2 separate regions of the Homo sapiens genome follow, and region 1 is linked to region 2. A link means that fine-mapping ties the variant in region 2 to the expression of a gene that starts in the linked region. Tissue or cell type: esophagus muscle. Region 2 holds a variant in brackets; the other region holds the start of a gene. All regions are shown on one strand. Distances are from middle to middle.

Region 1 (8,107 bases), 140 kb before region 2:
TGCAGTGGTGTGATCTCAGCTCACTGTCACCTCTGCCTCCCCAGATCAGAGGATCCTCCCACCTCAGCCTCCCAAGTAGCTGGGATTACAGGTGTGCACCACCACACCTGGCTAATTTTTGTATTTTCACTAGAGACAGGATTTCACCATGATGGCCAGGCTGGTCTGGAACTCCTGACCTCAGGTGATCCACCGGCCTTGGCCTCCCAAAGTGCTGGGATCACAGGCTAGTGACTTAACTTTAATAGAGAGTGTTAGAAAAGAGGCTGGCTAACTGAATGTCAGAAGATCCATGAATAGGAAGTTTGGAGAGATGATCCTATCCAAGATCCTTTCAGAGTCAAAGGTTCTTTTGATGAACCATAAGAAGGTGTCAGTACCTTGTTCCTCAGCTCCCATTAACAACAGAAACTGTGTGAAAATAGACTGTAAGGCAGAATGTCAAAGTTACGAAGGTAGAGGGAAATAAAGCCATAGCTGCTTTGTTTACCCTAGTGGTTATTCTGTTTCTGTGTATAAAGATTTAAGTAATGCTTTTTTCTGTTTTTGTTTTTTTTCTCCCCAAACAAGTTTTTTACTTTCAAAATTCTCTAGAGCTTTGGTGTGCTTTCTTTCTTTGGAAACTTCTGGCTCTCCTAATATGTTGTTTTCAGGGTACTGTATTTTGACAAGATCATCCTTAACCCAATATTATAAAGCAACACTTCACAGAATCGCAGTTTGTGTCTATGCGTCGAAGAACCAGCCCTGTGGAACAACTTATGTTCTTTTTTGGTGCTGGTTTTTGACACAGGGTCTTGCTGTGTTGCCCAGGCTGGAGTAGAGTGGCACAGTGATGGCTCACTGCAGCCTTGACCTTCTCCTTAACCCAATATTATAAAGCAACACTTCACAGAATCGCAGTTTGTGTCTATGTGTCGAAGAACCAGCCCTGTGGAACAACTTATGTTCTTTTTTGGTGCTGGTTTTTGACACAGGGTCTTGCTGTGTTGCCCAGGCTGGAGTAGAGTAGCACAGTGATGGCTCATTGCAGCCTTGACCTTCTGGGTTCCAGTGATTCTCCTATCTCAGCCTCTCAAGTAGCTGGAATTATAGGTGTGTGCCACCATGCCCAGCTAATTTTTAATTTTTTTTTAAGAGACGGGGCCTCCCTATGTTGCCCAGGCTGGTCTCAAACTCCTGGACTCACGTGATTCTACCGCCTCAGCCTCCCAACGTGCTGGGATTACAGGTGTGACCCACTGTGCTTGGCCACAACTGGTGTTTTGAGATCATTAATAATTAATAATGAAGTAGCATCTGGTAAAATGTGTACATTAGGATAGCTTAGCTTTTCCCAACAGTCAGTGAGGTGAGTTAGTAATCATCACTCTCATTTACCAGAAACTGGGTTTTGGAGCAGCTTGCCTACCACGATCGTGGTAGATTCTAGCTGGCACTAGAATCCAGAACTTTTGACTTCCACGCCAGTGTTCTTTCTAATACAAAAGGCTACTGTTCTTTCCTAATACTGGGTTTAGAGCCTTACTTGATCGCAGAATACAGTTTTTCCTCTTTTAACCACAGCAGTTCTCTGGAGTAGGATGGCAGGCTACTTTGGCCAAAGACTTGGCCTCTAACTTAAGTGCTGTCCCTAAGTTCATTTTTGTCTAAAGGAAGTCTCCAGCAAACGTCACTACTGATGTCTGTGCATACTTGACCACCTCCTTGAAAACAGGGACGCTAACACTTGCTCCAAAAAAAAATTCTAAGAATGTTAAGAGGGCAGTATTTGTCAAATGGAATGGATTTCACTGGGCAGTGCAGCAAAATGCTTAAGTTCTGCCGTGTTTTTTGTTTTGCGTTGTTTTTTAGAGACACAGTCGCGCTCTGTTGCCCAGGCTGGAGTGCAATGGCTGTTCGCAGGCGCGATCATAGCGCGCTGCAGCCTGGAACTCCTGCTCAAGCGATCCTCCTTGAACTTAGCCGGCCTCAGCTTCCCAAGAACCTGGGACTACAGGCGTGACACCTCGCTGGTTTACTCATTTTTCTGTTGAGGTATTATTGTGTGTTTCCTACTTTTACTATGCTATTTATACTCAACATAGTAGGTGCTGAATAAATACTAGTTAGTATCCTGGCTGGTCCAATACTCAGTAAAAACTGATCTCAGAATACGAAGCTGCTTGAGACCAGGCCCTTGCCCCAGTGTTCAGAGATCCACAGGTTGCTGTGGAGGCCAATCTGCCCAACCTGGAGTTCCAGAAAGGTCTGGGGATGTGTGTTGAGTGAGTCACAGACAGCCAAACTAAGAAAGGAGGAGGTGGTAGGGTGGGGAGGCCTTGCTGGAGAAGGAACAGGTGAGTGAATGCACAGATCTCTGAATCAGCAAACTGAATGAGTGAACCGCAAGCCGATATCGGAGTTGTCATACTTGTTGGGCTAGTCATGTAACCTCCAGGACCTCCATTTCCTTATCTGTAAAAAGAAATAAATAGTCTACTTATTTGCGATTATGTGAAGATTCAATAAGGTAATATTTGTAAGTATTCGCACTTGTACTTGGCATATCAACTGGCACAAAGTAAGCGTTCAATGTTAGCCACCGTCACCATTATGCGTTCATATATTTTATTTTTATTTTTTTGAGACGGAATCTCGCTCTGTCGCCCAGGGTAGACAGAATACAGTGGCGCAATCTCAGCTAACTGTAACCTCCTGGGTTCAAGCGATTCTCCTGCCTCAGCCTCCTGAGTAGCTGGGATCACAGGCGCGCTCCACCACGCCTGGCTAATTTTTTCGTATTTTTAGTAGAGACGGGGTTTCACCATGTTGGTCAGGCTGGTCTCGAACTCCTGACCTGATGATCCGCCCGCATCGGCCTCCCAAAATGCTGTGATTACAGGTGTGAACCACCGCGCCCGGCCTACGCTTTCATAATTTAATAATACCTTATAATAATTATGAACTGTGTCATTCCACGAATAATTTATTCCCTGGTCGTTGACTGCGAACGAGGTTGACAAGGATTCATAAACAGCCATTTCAGTCCCAAAGAGCTTTTAGACAAGGAAGCCAGGACCGGCTTCACAATCCGAGACAAGCGGCAGCGTGACGTCCCCACGTCCGCTCCCAGGGTCACGTGACCCGCAGCCCCGCCCGGACTGAGTGGGTCCCCAGCGGCTGCGACAGCAGCGTCTGCGCCTGCGCGGAGGCAAGCGCGCTCTGCGGCGCGGTCCGCTGTGGAGGCGGCGCGAACGGTCAGGGGGCGGCCGATGGCTTTGAGGGGCCCTGCGGGCTTGGGGCCCGGCTCTCGAAGGCCGTTGGACGAAGCGGTGGCAGGGGCCGAGGGCCGCGAGGCGCCGGCCCTTGTGGCGGCGGGAGGCGCGCCAGAGGACGATGAAGAGGACGATGGCCGTGGCCGGGGCCTGCTGCGCTGGGACAGCTTCTCCGCCTGGCTGCACTGCGTGTGTGTGGTGGGCTTCGACCTGGAGCTGGGCCAGGCCGTGGAGGTGAGGCCCGGCCCCGCCCTTTCTCGGCGCTCCTCCCCTGCGCCGGGGCGGCTGCAGCAAAGCCAGCGGCCCGCGGGCTGACCGGCCAGGACCCTGTCCGCGGCGCATCCGGGCGTGGCCAGTCTCCCCTCCCGCGCTCTTTCGGGCTGCGGTCCTACGGCACTTCCCGTGGGAGGATCTTGGGCTGCGGCTAGGGGTGAAAAGTTCTCTCTAGGCCCCTCCTAAATACTTGTTGATGTTCATCCTGTTCTTTCTTTATTTCTTTTAAACGCAGAGTCACAGAATTAACTAAAAGGGTTAGTAGCACCCACCCGGAGAAGCCCGCAGGCAGGATGTTTGTTTGGTACTTTTTCAAGAACAATGCCCATAACAGATGATGAACTCTAGTAGCCGAACTTGCACAACCAAGTTTTAAGGCTCAGATTGTTTTAGTCATTTGCAGTAACTGTTTGAGCGTTTCCCTCAGCCTGAGTCGAAATGCTTATCTCAGCACGCATTTTCTCCCTTTCCTCCTTTTGTGCCTCATTTCTGTTTTTTTTTTTTTTTTTTTTTGAGACGGAGTTTTTGCTCTTGTTGCTCAGGCTGGAGTGCAATGGCGCGATCTTGGCTCACCGCAACCTCTGCCTCCCGGATTCAGGCAATTCTCCTGCCTCAGCCTCCCGAGTAGCTGGGGTTACAGGCATGCGACCATGCCCGGCTAATTTTGTATTTTTAATAGAGACGGGGTTTCTCCATTTTGGTAAGGCTGGTCTCGAACTCCCGACTCAGGTGGTCTGCCCGCCTAGGCCTTCCAAAGTGGTGGGATTACATGCGTGAGCCACCGTGCCCGGCCTCATTTCTGTTATTTTTTTTTATGTTGCCTCTGGAACAGTTGGTGTGAAACTACTGTCAAGATGAATATAGGGAACATCATTTGCTTGTCAATCAGTCAACTTTTCCATTCTTATGTATGGCCCCTTACCGAAAGGCTTTAGAAACATCTATTCTTGACGTTGTTGAAGGTCTTTTTAGCATAAGGAATTGCTTGCTTTCATGTGTCCAAGGAAATTGTTATCAGAAGGGCGTTTGTTTAGACGTTTTGGTTTTGGTTTTTTTTTTTTTTTTTTTTTTTTGGTATTGGTGACAGATTTCGATTTCATTAATACTGTAGTGGCCTGGTTGACTAAGAAAATTGGCTAGGGGTAGTTTTCTTAATGCGAAGCTACTGCTTTCGTATTCGGCCTGCCTTCTGGATGTTTTATTATAACACAGTTCAGCGACATTAAGTTTCCACTAAGAACCAGGCATTATGTTAGTTGTGGAGCATACAAATAGGATGTGCTCTAATCTGTATTTGTAGATTGAGGCAATAATTTAGAGGAGAACCAAGAATTAATCATAGTAGCTGATAAGGCCAAATGCAGTGCCTGGCACCTAGTGGCATTCTATAAATACTTTTGATAGAATAGGTGAATATGTGAGCAATTCTTTATCTTATTAAAGTAAGAAAAACAGTTCCCAAAGATTTTGAGTAAGAGATTTATAAGCCATTTATTATTCACCTTGCCATGTTAACCTGAAGTTATATGTACAGCAAGATACAATTTAACCAGAAAGCATAAGAATGGGTTGTTGTAGTTGATTGTGTTTTTAAATAGCTAAAGGAGATTCTTTTGGATTCTCATTATTTGGGACATTCTTTATAACGTGAATATGTTTTTTGACCAAATAAACAGAAAATATATTTGAGATGCTGCAAAAATGTGAATTATTAAAGGACTTATTTTGAATTTCATTTTCCATAGTGTATGCCACTGTATAGAGTTTTTTCTAGGTCAGGAGTTCTTAACCTTTTGCTTCCTGGATCTTTTAAAAATATGAACATTGTGAATTTTCCACTAGGAAAAGGCTGAGTAAGATGAAATCATGTATGTGGTTCCATATATGTGGTTTCCAGCTATTTAAGACATAAACCTAGTAGGGCTTCAGAAAATGGCTAGAGTTCAGAACCAGGGAAACCTCTTGGTTTTGCTCTTTTTTTGTGTGCAGATCTTGTTTATATTTCATGTTCCCTGCAAACTGCCTTCTTCCCCTTCTCTGATTTTTTTTTTTTTTTTTAAAGACAGAGTCTAACTTTGTCAGCCAGGCTGGAGTGCAGTGGTGTAATTTCGGCTCACTGCAACCTCCACCTCCCAGGTTCAAGTGATTCTCCTGCCTCAGCCTGCCAAGTAGCTGGGACTACAGGTGCATGTCACCATGCCCAGCTAATTTTTGTTTTTTGAGAGAGAGAGTCTTGCTCTGTTGCCCAGGCTGGAGTGCAGTGGGGCAATCTCGTCTCCCTGCAAGCTCCGCCTCCCTGCAAGCTCCGCCTCCCAGGTTCACGCCATTCTCCTGCCTCAGCCTCCCAAGTTGCTGGGACTACAGGCACCCGCACCACGCCCGGCTAATTTTTTGTATTTTTAATAGAGACGGGGTTTCACCGTGTTAGCCAGGATGGTCTCGATCTCCTGACAGTGTGATCTGCCCACCTCAGCCTCCCAAAGTGCTGGGATTACAGGCATGAGCCACCGCGCCTGGCCTGCCCAGCTAATTTTGTTTTTTTTGTTTTTTTGTTTTTTTTAGTAGAGACAGGGTTTCACCATGTTGGCCAGGCTGGTCTTGAACTCCTGACCTCAAGTGATACACCTGCCTCAGCCTCCCAAAGTGCTGGGATTACAGGCGTGAGCCACCGCACCTGACTTTTTTTTTTTTTTTTCCTTAGAGACATGGTCTGCCTCAGATTGGAGTGCAGTGGCATGATCATAACTCACTACAACCTCGAACTCCTAAACTCGAGGGATCCTCCTGAGTATCTATGAATACAGACATGCACCACTACACCCGGCTATTTTTAATTTTTTTTGTGGGGACAGGGTCTTGCTATGTTGCCCAGGCTGGTCTCAAACTTGTAGCCTCAAACTGTCCTGCTGCCTCTGTCTTCCAAAGTGCTGGGATTATAGGTGTTGAGCCACCATGCCCAGCCCTTCTCTGATCTTTAAGGTGAGAAGCTAACGTTTTTAGCCACTTCAGTGAAAAAGAGTGAATCTTTAACTCACTTCCAAAGCCAGAGGAAGATAATCTGGCCTGGTTTGGGGCAGGTTCCTACTCTGATACAATTGGCTAAAGCCCTGAGTAGAAGGGGGAGTGGTTCACCTTGCATAAAATGTCTTTTAAGGCCCTGTCCTAAGTGAAGGGGGTTAAGGAGGTCTTTGAGCTAGGAAGAAACTGAACAAGGTGTTGACTGCAGGGGGTGTGCTGAGCTTCTTTTCCCCTGAAGTGGCTCTGGAGGCATTACCACAGAATCAAAGTGTCCTCTGGAACAAGGTTTGAAACCTCCTGGGTTTGATATACTGTACCTCACTTTTAGCTTTGAAATTACCAATTATTTAGTAAAGCCTTAATTATCCGAATACAGAATTACCTTATTTATTCAAGTTTTTTTTTTTTTTCTGAGTGAATAATAACATACTCATTGCTGAAAACTTGGCAAGTAAAGAAATCATAAACACTAGGCCGGGCATGGCGGCTCATGCCTGTAATTCCAGCACTTTGGGAGGCCGAGGCGGGCAGATCACGAGGTCAAGAGATCGAGACCACCCTGGCCAACACGGTGAAACCCCGTCTCTACTAAAAATACAAAAATCAGCTGGGCGCAGTGGCATACACCTGTAGTCCCAGCTACTCGGGAGGGTGAGGCAGGAGAATCGCTTGAACCTGGGAGGTGGAGGTTGCAGTAAGATCGGGCCACTGCACTCCAGCCTGGCGACACAGCAAGACTTTGTCTCAAAAAAAAAGAAAAATTATAAACACTAGAAAATATCACTCTTAATTCTACTAAGAGGCAACTGCTATTAATATTCGGCATTTTTGTTAATACTTTTTTTCTTTATATAATTTTGTATCTGTCAAGGATTAACTTGATTGTTAGGAACAGAAACCTCAAATAAACTTAAGTAAAGGGACAGTGATTGTAAGGATTCCAGGCAGTCTTTTGGAATCCAAGTGTGTGGGAAGCAAGGATGAACCTGTGGGATTTGGAAAGCCCCAGGCCTTTGTCTCTGGAGCTGTGTGTTTTTTTTTGTCTTTGGTCTTTGCATGTCTGTTCTTTTCTCCATGCTGAAGCTGGTTTGTGCTGCAGTGGCCTCAGTTTCTGCTCCCCCGTTACTCTGCTTGACTTTGGGTTTCCATGGTACTAATTTTAGCCAAACTCTTTTTCTGGAATGAGGCTGAAGCTTAATATTGGAGTATCTGATTGGCTCAGCATGGGACAGGTGTCCCATTTTGTTCACTTGTGGTTAGGAGACAAGGTTTCGCTAGCAGTAGCAGTCACTTAGGCTCACCCCTGCAATAGGAGGGACACTTCCAAAGCATAGTCTGGGCAGCAGTCTCCTAAACATGTCTACTGTGAGTCTGCTTTTATTCATAAATATTCTCATAAACAGTTTGTAAGATGATTAGACTCTTAATAAGCCGAGTGTGGTGGCTCATGCCTGTAATCCAAGCACTTTGGGAGGCTGAGGCGCGTGGATCACTTGAGGTCAGGAGTTCGAGACCGCCGTAGCCAACATGGTAAAACCCCATCTCTAATAAAAAAATAC
Region 2 (8,107 bases):
ACCTCCCCTGGCCTAAGGAATCGTGCACTTTATTGCTATTTCTTTTAAAGGTCTTAAAGACGCCGGGCCCAGTGGCTCACGTCTGTAATCCCAGCACTTTGGGAGGCTGAGGCGGGTGGATCGCCTAAGGTCAGGAGTTCGAGACCAGCCTGGCCAACATAGTGAAACCCCGTCTCTACTAAAAATACAAAAAATTAGCTGGGCATGGTGGCGCACACCTGTAATCCCAGCTACTAGGGAGGCTGAGGCAGGAGAATCGCTTGAACCTGGGAGATGGAGGTCATAGTGAGTTGAGATCATGCCATTGCACTCCAGCCTGGGCAACAAGAGTGAAACTCCGTCTCAAAACAAAACAAAAAAAGGTCTTGAAGAACGAATGAATTGCTTTACCTGTAGACCAGAAAGAGGTCCAGTGTGATGAGTAAGGTGAGACCAGGGGAGAGTAGCAGATAAGAAAGATATGCATCCACCAAATTGTGTAGTGCATTCTAAGCCATAGTATGAAGTTCTGGATTTCTTCTAAGAGGGCCATTAGAGTTGTTTTGCTTGCAATTATGGAAAAGCTTTAATTTTCATTTTCTTGAAAGGGGAAAAGCTAAAAACATTTGGTTTTAATTGCAAGAAAAAAGGTGTTTGATACTGTAATTGTCATTGGCCTCCATGTAATTATTTTTTTATTTTTTTATTTTTGAGATGGAGCCTCACTCTGTCACCCAGGCTGGAGTGCAGTGGTGTGATCTCGGCTCACTGCAGCCTCCACCTCCCGGGTTCAAGCGATTCTCATGCCTCAGCCTCCCAAGTAGCTGAGATTACAGGTGTGCACTGCCATGTCTGGCTAATTTTTGTATTTTTAGTAGAGATGGAATTTCACTGTCTCTACTAAATATGTTAAAACGCCGTCTCTACTAAAAATACAAAAATTAGACGGGGTTTCATTATCTCTACTAAACATGGTGAAACCCTGTCTCTACTAAAAATACAAAAATTAGCCGGGCGCAGTGGTGTTCGCCTGTAATCCCAGCTACTCAGGAGGCCGAGGCAGGACAATCTTTTGAACCTGGGAGGCAGAGGTTGCAGTGAGCCGAGATCGCGCCACTGCCCTCCAGCTTGGGAGACAGCAAGACTCTGTCTCGGAAAAAAAAAAAAAAGAAATATCTTCAGAATTTAATTTAGACATTTTGCCTACATCAATTGGTCAGACAGATTTATGCTTTCTTTGCTAGATGTTTTAAAGTCATAAAACTGTTGCTTCCGTGATATTTTTAATACTTGCTTGATTTGTGTATAAGTTAAAACTATGAGGTCAGGCTGCGGGGCTCCCCTGAAACCTTGCACACATTTTGATATGAGCTTTTGTCTTTGGCTTTGGGCCTCTGGATTCTGAGATCTAGACAGGTGGCCATGGTGAAGCCTGGAAACGTGTGTGTCTGTATCACCTGGACTACCAGCTGCATGTAAAGCTGAGTGCAGTATGGCCCTGTCCTCCCTGGCGCAACTCTGCATCCTTATCATGTTGGGAGGGGTTGGAACCTCCACCATCATCTTCACAGCTTTATCCTCTGTACTGGGCTCTATACCTGGTATGTAAATCCAGGACACAGATGGGCTCTGCCCTTCATAGCTGTCCTGGATGCCACATGGATACTCAGGAACAGGGTGACTGGGGTTGGAGAAGGACAAAGGGATATTGGGAAAAGTGCCTCTGTCCAATATCTGAAAGGCCTTGGTTAAGATGAGACTGGCTGATGCAGGGTTAGGTTAGTTTTGTGTTTTCTTTGCTCTTTATTTATTTATTTTTTGAGATGGAGTTTCACTCCTTTTGCCCAGGCTGGAGTGCAATGGCATGATCTTGGCTCAGTGAAAACCTCCACCTCCTGGGTTCAAGCGATTCTCCTGCCTCAGCCTCCTGAGTAGCGGGGATTACAGGTATGCATCACTACACCCAGCTAATGTTGTATTTTTAGTAGAGACAGGGTTTCTCCATGTTGGTCAGGCTGGCCTCAAACTCCCGACCTCAGGTGATCCACCCACCTTGGCCTCCCAAAGTGCTGGGATTATAGGCATGAGCCACCACGCCCAGCCACTTTTTATTTTTTTAAGACAGGGTCTCATTCTGTCACCCAGGCTGGAGTGCAGTGGCAACATAATAGTTCACTGGAGCCTTGAACTCCTTGGTCTCCTACTTTAGGTACACGCAACTACACCCAACTAATTGTTTTTTATTTGTTGTAGAGATGGGGGATCCCACTATGTTGCCCAAGCTGGTCTCAAACTCCTGGGCTCAAGCGATCCACCTGCCTCAGCCTCCCAAAGGGCTGAGATTAGCAGTATGAGATGAGACACTATACCTGGTGGCTTTGTTTTTTCAAAATAAATAACTTTCTAGAATGGAAGGGGCTTAATGAAAATAAATAAATAAATAAATAACATAAATGGCTAGTTTTGCTTTCCATAAGCAAATGAAATACAGTTGTTAAGAACAAGTAAATTAGATAACTGTGAATGGGATAAGCATCTACAAATAAACTTGTCATAGTTTCCAAAACTTTTTCAGTAATTTAAAATCTTAAAGTCATGCTGTATTAAATGAAGTAATAGATAATTATAAATTGTCCGCATTGGCTGAGCACAATGGCTCATGCCTGTAATCCCAGCACTTTGGGAGGCTGAGACGGGAGGATTGTTTGAGCCCTGGGCAACATAGTGAGACCCCATCTCTTTTTTTTTTTTTTGAGATGGAGTCTTGCTCTGTCGCCCAGGCTGGAGTGCAGTGGCGTGATCTCGGCTCACTGCAAGCTCTGCCTCCTGGGTTCATGCCATTCTCCTGCCTCAGCCTCCTGAGTAGCTGGGACTGCAGGCACCTGCCACCATGCCCAGCTAATTTTTTGTATTTTTTAGTAGAGACAGGGTTTCACCGTGTTAGCCAGGATGGTCTCGATCTCTTGACCTCATGATATGCCCACCTCAGCCTCCCAAAGTGCTGGGATTACAGGCGTGAACCACCATGCCTGGCCCGAGACCCCATCTCTTAAAAAAAAAAAAAAGTAAAATGTCTGAGTTATTTCTAAGTGAAAATACTGAAACATTAATTATTAAACTTAAGTTTATATACTTTGATGTCTTTTTTTCATTTTTCCCACTTATTCTCAAGTTCTGTTTTTTTTTCATTTTTTTGATGTCTTGTTTCATATGATATAGAAAGCTAAATATATTTGGATTCATTAATAACACTTTGAGAAAACATATCTTTTTAGAAATTATTAAGTGGCTGTTGTCTGCAAATACTGATATAAAACAATTCAAAATTACTGACTTCCTGGGTTGTCACTAGAAATTAGGGTTACTAAGAGTTAAAATTCAAAGTAATATATGTAATTAAAACTACTGAAAGTAAGAAATAATTTTGTGGCCGGGCGCGGTGGCTAATGCCTGTAATCCCAGCACTTTGGGAGCCAAGGCGGGCGGATCACGAGGTCAGGAGATTGAGACCATCCTGGCTAACACGGCGAAACCCCGTCTCTACTAA[T/C]AATACAAAAAATTAGCAGGGCGTGGTCGTGGGTGCCTGTAGTCCCAGCTACTAGGGAGGCTGAGGCAGGAGAATGGTGTGAACCCGGGAGGCGGAGCTTGCAGTGAGCCGAGATCGCGCCACTGCACTCCAACCTGGGCGACAGAGCGAGACTCCATCTCAAAAAATAAATAAATAAATAAATAAATAATTTTGTATACAGAGTACGATAAAAACAACATATCTTTTTAGTGAGGAAAAGTTAAGTCATGAGTATATGTGCTTTTGTTTAAAAATTTTTGTTTTGGCTGGGCACGGTGGCTCACGCCTGTAATCCCAGCACTTTGGGAGACTGAGGCGGGTGGATCACAAGGTCAGGAGATCGAGGCCATCCTGGCTAACACGGTGAAACCCCATCTCTACTAAAAATACAAAAGAAATTAGCTGGGCATGTAGTCCCAGCTACTCGGGAGGCTGAGGCAGGAGAATGGTGTGAACCCAGGAAGCGGAGCTTGCAGTGAGCCGAGATTGCGCCACTGCACTCCAGCCTCAGCGACAGAGCGAGACTCCATCTCAAAAAAAAAAAAAAAATTGTTTCTAGCCACTGAAACAATAACAAAAAAAATGAAAAACTTTTGCCTAATTAAAGGTTATTTAAAGATTGTCTTAGAATAAATATATGGCACTTTGGGAGGCCAGGGCGGGTGGATCACCTGAGGTCAGGACTCTGAGACTAGCCTGGCTAGCATGGTGAAACCCCATCTCTATTAAAAATACAGAAAAAAAAAAAATTTAGCTGGGCGTCGTGGTACGTGCCTGTAGTCCCAGCTGCTTGGGAAGCTGAGGCAGGAGAATCGCTTGAACCCGGGAGGGGGAAGTTGCAGTGAGCCAAGATTGCACCACTGCACTCCAGCCTGGGTGGCAGAGTGAGACTCTGTCTCAAAAAATAAAAATAAAAATAAATGTATGGAAAAATGTATACAAAAATAAACGGATATAAAAAGTTGGAGAAAAAATTTAAAAACTGTAAGAGGTTATAAAAGGCTTATGGATTTCTTATGTGGTCAAAGTTGACTGAGACTGGATCTATTTGTTTATAAGGTTTTATTATTAATATTTATTTATTCATTGTTTGTTTTGTTTTGTTTTGTTTTTAAAAGCAGGGTCTTGATCTGTGACCCAGGCTGGTGTATGGTGGTGTCGTCATAGTTCATTTGTAATCTCAAATTTCTGGGCTCAAGCAATCCTCTTGCCTCAGTCTCCCAGGTGGTTAGGACTACAGGTATGTAGCCATGCCTGGCTAATTAAAAAAACTTTTTTTTGTAGAGATGGGGTCTCGCTAGCTGTGTTGCCTAGGCTGGTCTTGCACTCCTGGCCTCAAGAGATCTTCCCACCTTGGCCTCCCAGAGTGTTGGGATTACAGGCGTGAACCACCATGCCTGGCCTTATGGTTTTATTGAAATTTGCTTTAGTAATACACTGATACAAAACTAAATTTGGTTCTCTCATTTGAACATGATTTTCTGGTGGTATTAATAAAAGATAGTAAGCCAGGTATGGTGGCTCACACCTGTAATCCCAGCACTTTGGGAGGCCAAGGCAGAAGGACTGCATAAGCCCAGGAGTTTGAGACCAGCCTGGGCAACATGGCAAAACCCTGTCTCTACCAAAAATACAAAAATTAGCTGGGCATGGTGGTTCATGCCTGTAGTCCTAGCTACTCTGGAGGCTGAGGTGGGAGGATGATTTGAGCCTGGGAGGCTGAAGTCGCAGTGAGCTGAGATTGCGCCATTGCACTCCAGCCTGGGTGACAGAGCCAGACCCTGTCTCAAAAAATAAAATAAAATATAGTAAAAGATTTTGTTCACTTTTTGAGTAAATTGCAAAAGAAAGAAGAGAGAGAGAGAGAAACAGATTGTGTGCCTCATGCTGTCTTTAAACAATTTTTAAAAAAATTTTTTGGGTCTTACTCTGTTGCCCAGGCTGGAGTGCAGTGGCATGATCTTGGCTCACTGCAACCTCCATCTCCTGGGTTCAAGCGATTCTCCCACGTCAGCCTCCCAAGTAGCTGGGACTACAGGCGCGCACCACCATGCCTGGCTAATTTTCGTATTTTTTGGTAGAGACGGGGTTTCACCATGTTGGCCAGGCTGGTCTCGAACTCCTGACCTCAAGTGATTTGCCTGCCTCAATCTCCTAAAGTGCTGGGATTACAGCTGTGGCCCACTGCACCTGGCCTGATTAAATTTTTTAATTAAAAATATTTTTTATAAACATAGTCTCACTCTGTTGCCCAGGCTGGAGTGCATTGGCTATTCACAAGTGCAGCCATAATAGCTCACTGCAGCCTTGAACTCCTGAGCTCAAGTGATCCTCCCACCTTGGCCTCCTGAGTACCTGGAATTATGGGCACAGGCCACTGCATCCGGCCCTGCTCTCTTTGTTAGATCTTTTCATTATTTGGAAAACTGAGTCTTCTCTCTATGAAAAAGTGAAGGATTTTGCTTTATAAAATCTTTTTTTAAAAAAACTATGGAATGCTTCACAAATTTGTGTGTCATCCTTATGCAGGCACCATGGTAATCTTTTCTGTATCATTTCAGTTTTAATATTATGTGCTGCCGAAATGAGCACTGCTTTGTAAAATCTTTTAAATTTTCACTTTGGCTAAATGAATAACTGTTATTTTACAGTGACCTATGATCTTCTTTTGATCAAATGTCTTAAAACTTTCCTCGTTTGTTTTCATTTAAAAACAATTTTTTTGAGACCGTGTCTCACTCTGTCACCCAGGCTGGAGTGCAGTGGTGCAGTAATGGCTTACTGCAGCCTCGACCTCCTAGGCTCAAGTGATCCTCCCCCCTCAGTCTGCCAAGTAGCTGGGCCCACAAGTGCACACCACCAACGCCTGGCTAAGAAATATTCTGTAGAGACAGAGTCCCCTGATGTTGCCCAGTCTGATCTCAAACTCCAGGGCTCAAGTGATCTTTCCACCTCAGCCTTCCAAAGTGCTGGGATTACAAGTTTGAGCCACTGAGCCTGGCCTTTTCTATTTTAATTGAGTGTTTTTATCCTTTGACATACTTGACAGGCTTCCCAAAGTCAAATTTCAAATTCTAAATTAAGTCTTTTCGGCCTCAAACTAACCTTAGGTTATCCCAGAATGGCCCCTGGAAGCCTAAGAGAGACGTATTAGGCTTATTTGATATGTAAATTATACAGGAAACCTTTGCATTACATTTATATGAACATGTTATTAATATGTGTTTTAAAAGTATATGAGATTCCTAAAAGTCTGATGTGTCTTTTTGTATGTTATCAGTCATAATTATGGCTACTATGTAAACTTGTTATAGACTACAGAAAAAAACAAATTTCCTTGTCAATCGCATCATTGTTGTAAACTCTTACCAGGTCTTTCACCATAGCCATTCTAAATCTTGTTGTTCGTAGTAAATTGCTTTATTCTAATGTTTTTTCTAAATGATCTTTGCAAGCAAATATAATCCTAAAGCATTGTGTCTTCAAAGAGGTTTATGAGAAGGATAAAAAGTCTGATACATACTCTGGAATACAGGCCTCTGTTGATTATTAAGTTGGACTGAATAAGAACTTGAGAAACTCCAATGGTAAAAACTGGACTTAAAATTGCTAATTTATCAAGTAGAACAAAAATTAATTACATGGGACGGAACTGATGAGGACTGAAATGATTTTAATGACTTTTTTGCTTGAAACGTTGCTTTTTATTATTATTTTCTTTCAGAGTTAAGAAAACTTTTTTTCTCTGCATTATCTGTAGTTTTATAGCAATTTGGTAACTTTTTGGTATATTTTGTGAGTAAAATTGAAATATTTATCTTTCTCTCTACCTGATATCTCCAGAATTAGGAAACTATTCATGAGTATTCTTGTTTTATGGCAATATTATTTATTTGTATAAGCTCAAGAGGAATCTGTTCTTGTAAAAGAACACACTTTTGGAAACATTGGCTATTAAAAAGGATGTACATCGGCCAGGCGTGGTGGCTCACACCTGTAATCCTAGCACATCTAGAGGCCAAGGCAGGAGGATTGCTTGAGGCCAGGAGTTCAAGACCATCCTGGCCAACATTGTGAGACTTTGTCTCTATAATAAAATTTTTTTTTAAAGTAAAAAAAAAAAGGACGTACATTGTATCAGTCAGGGTTCAAAGTGGGAAGCAGAACCACTAAGATATAATACATATCATCTATATCTATATCTATATCTATATCTATATATGTGTGTGTGTATGTCTATACATATATATATATTTTTTTAAACAAAGAATTGGCTTATGCAATGGAGGGGGCTGGTTAACCAAGTCCATGGTCTGTAGGGCAGACTATCTGTCAGGAAGGGAAGAACCAGAAAATGGAGAGCAGTTATAGACCCAGCTGCTGTTTGGAGTTTGACTCAGGGCATGCCCATCTCTTTATTATTATTTTTTTAATTTTTAATTTTTTAAAATAGAGACAGAGTTACACCATGTTGCCCAGGCTGGTCTCAAACTCCCTCAAGAAGTCTGTCTGGCTCGGCCTCCTAAGGTGCTGGGATTACAGGGTTGATCCACTTTGCCA

The links. PIP is the estimated chance that this variant, and not a neighbour inherited with it, causes the effect.
Region 1: it holds the start of DENND6A, and the variant in region 2 is fine-mapped to the expression of DENND6A in esophagus muscle (GTEx, PIP above 0.99).

The regions. Positions count from the first base shown.
Region 1 is chr3:57,688,166-57,696,272 of GRCh38, reverse strand. It overlaps DENND6A (DENN domain containing 6A), which reads left to right and starts at 3,196. Exons shown (of 20, transcript NM_152678.3): 1 at 3,196-3,491. The coding sequence starts at 3,255. It overlaps DENND6A-DT (DENND6A divergent transcript), which reads right to left and starts at 3,068. Exons shown (of 2, transcript NR_135550.1): 1 at 2,931-3,068; 2 at 1-2,457. RefSeq lists silencers at 3,197-3,296, 3,407-3,646 and an enhancer at 3,368-3,868.
Region 2 is chr3:57,546,870-57,554,976 of GRCh38, reverse strand. It overlaps a transcript of DNAH12 not described here and the pseudogene RNU6-483P. Among named protein-coding and RNA genes, the nearest start is that of PDE12, 5.4 kb to the left of the region's middle. The variant T/C (reference allele first, on the strand shown) is at 3,527.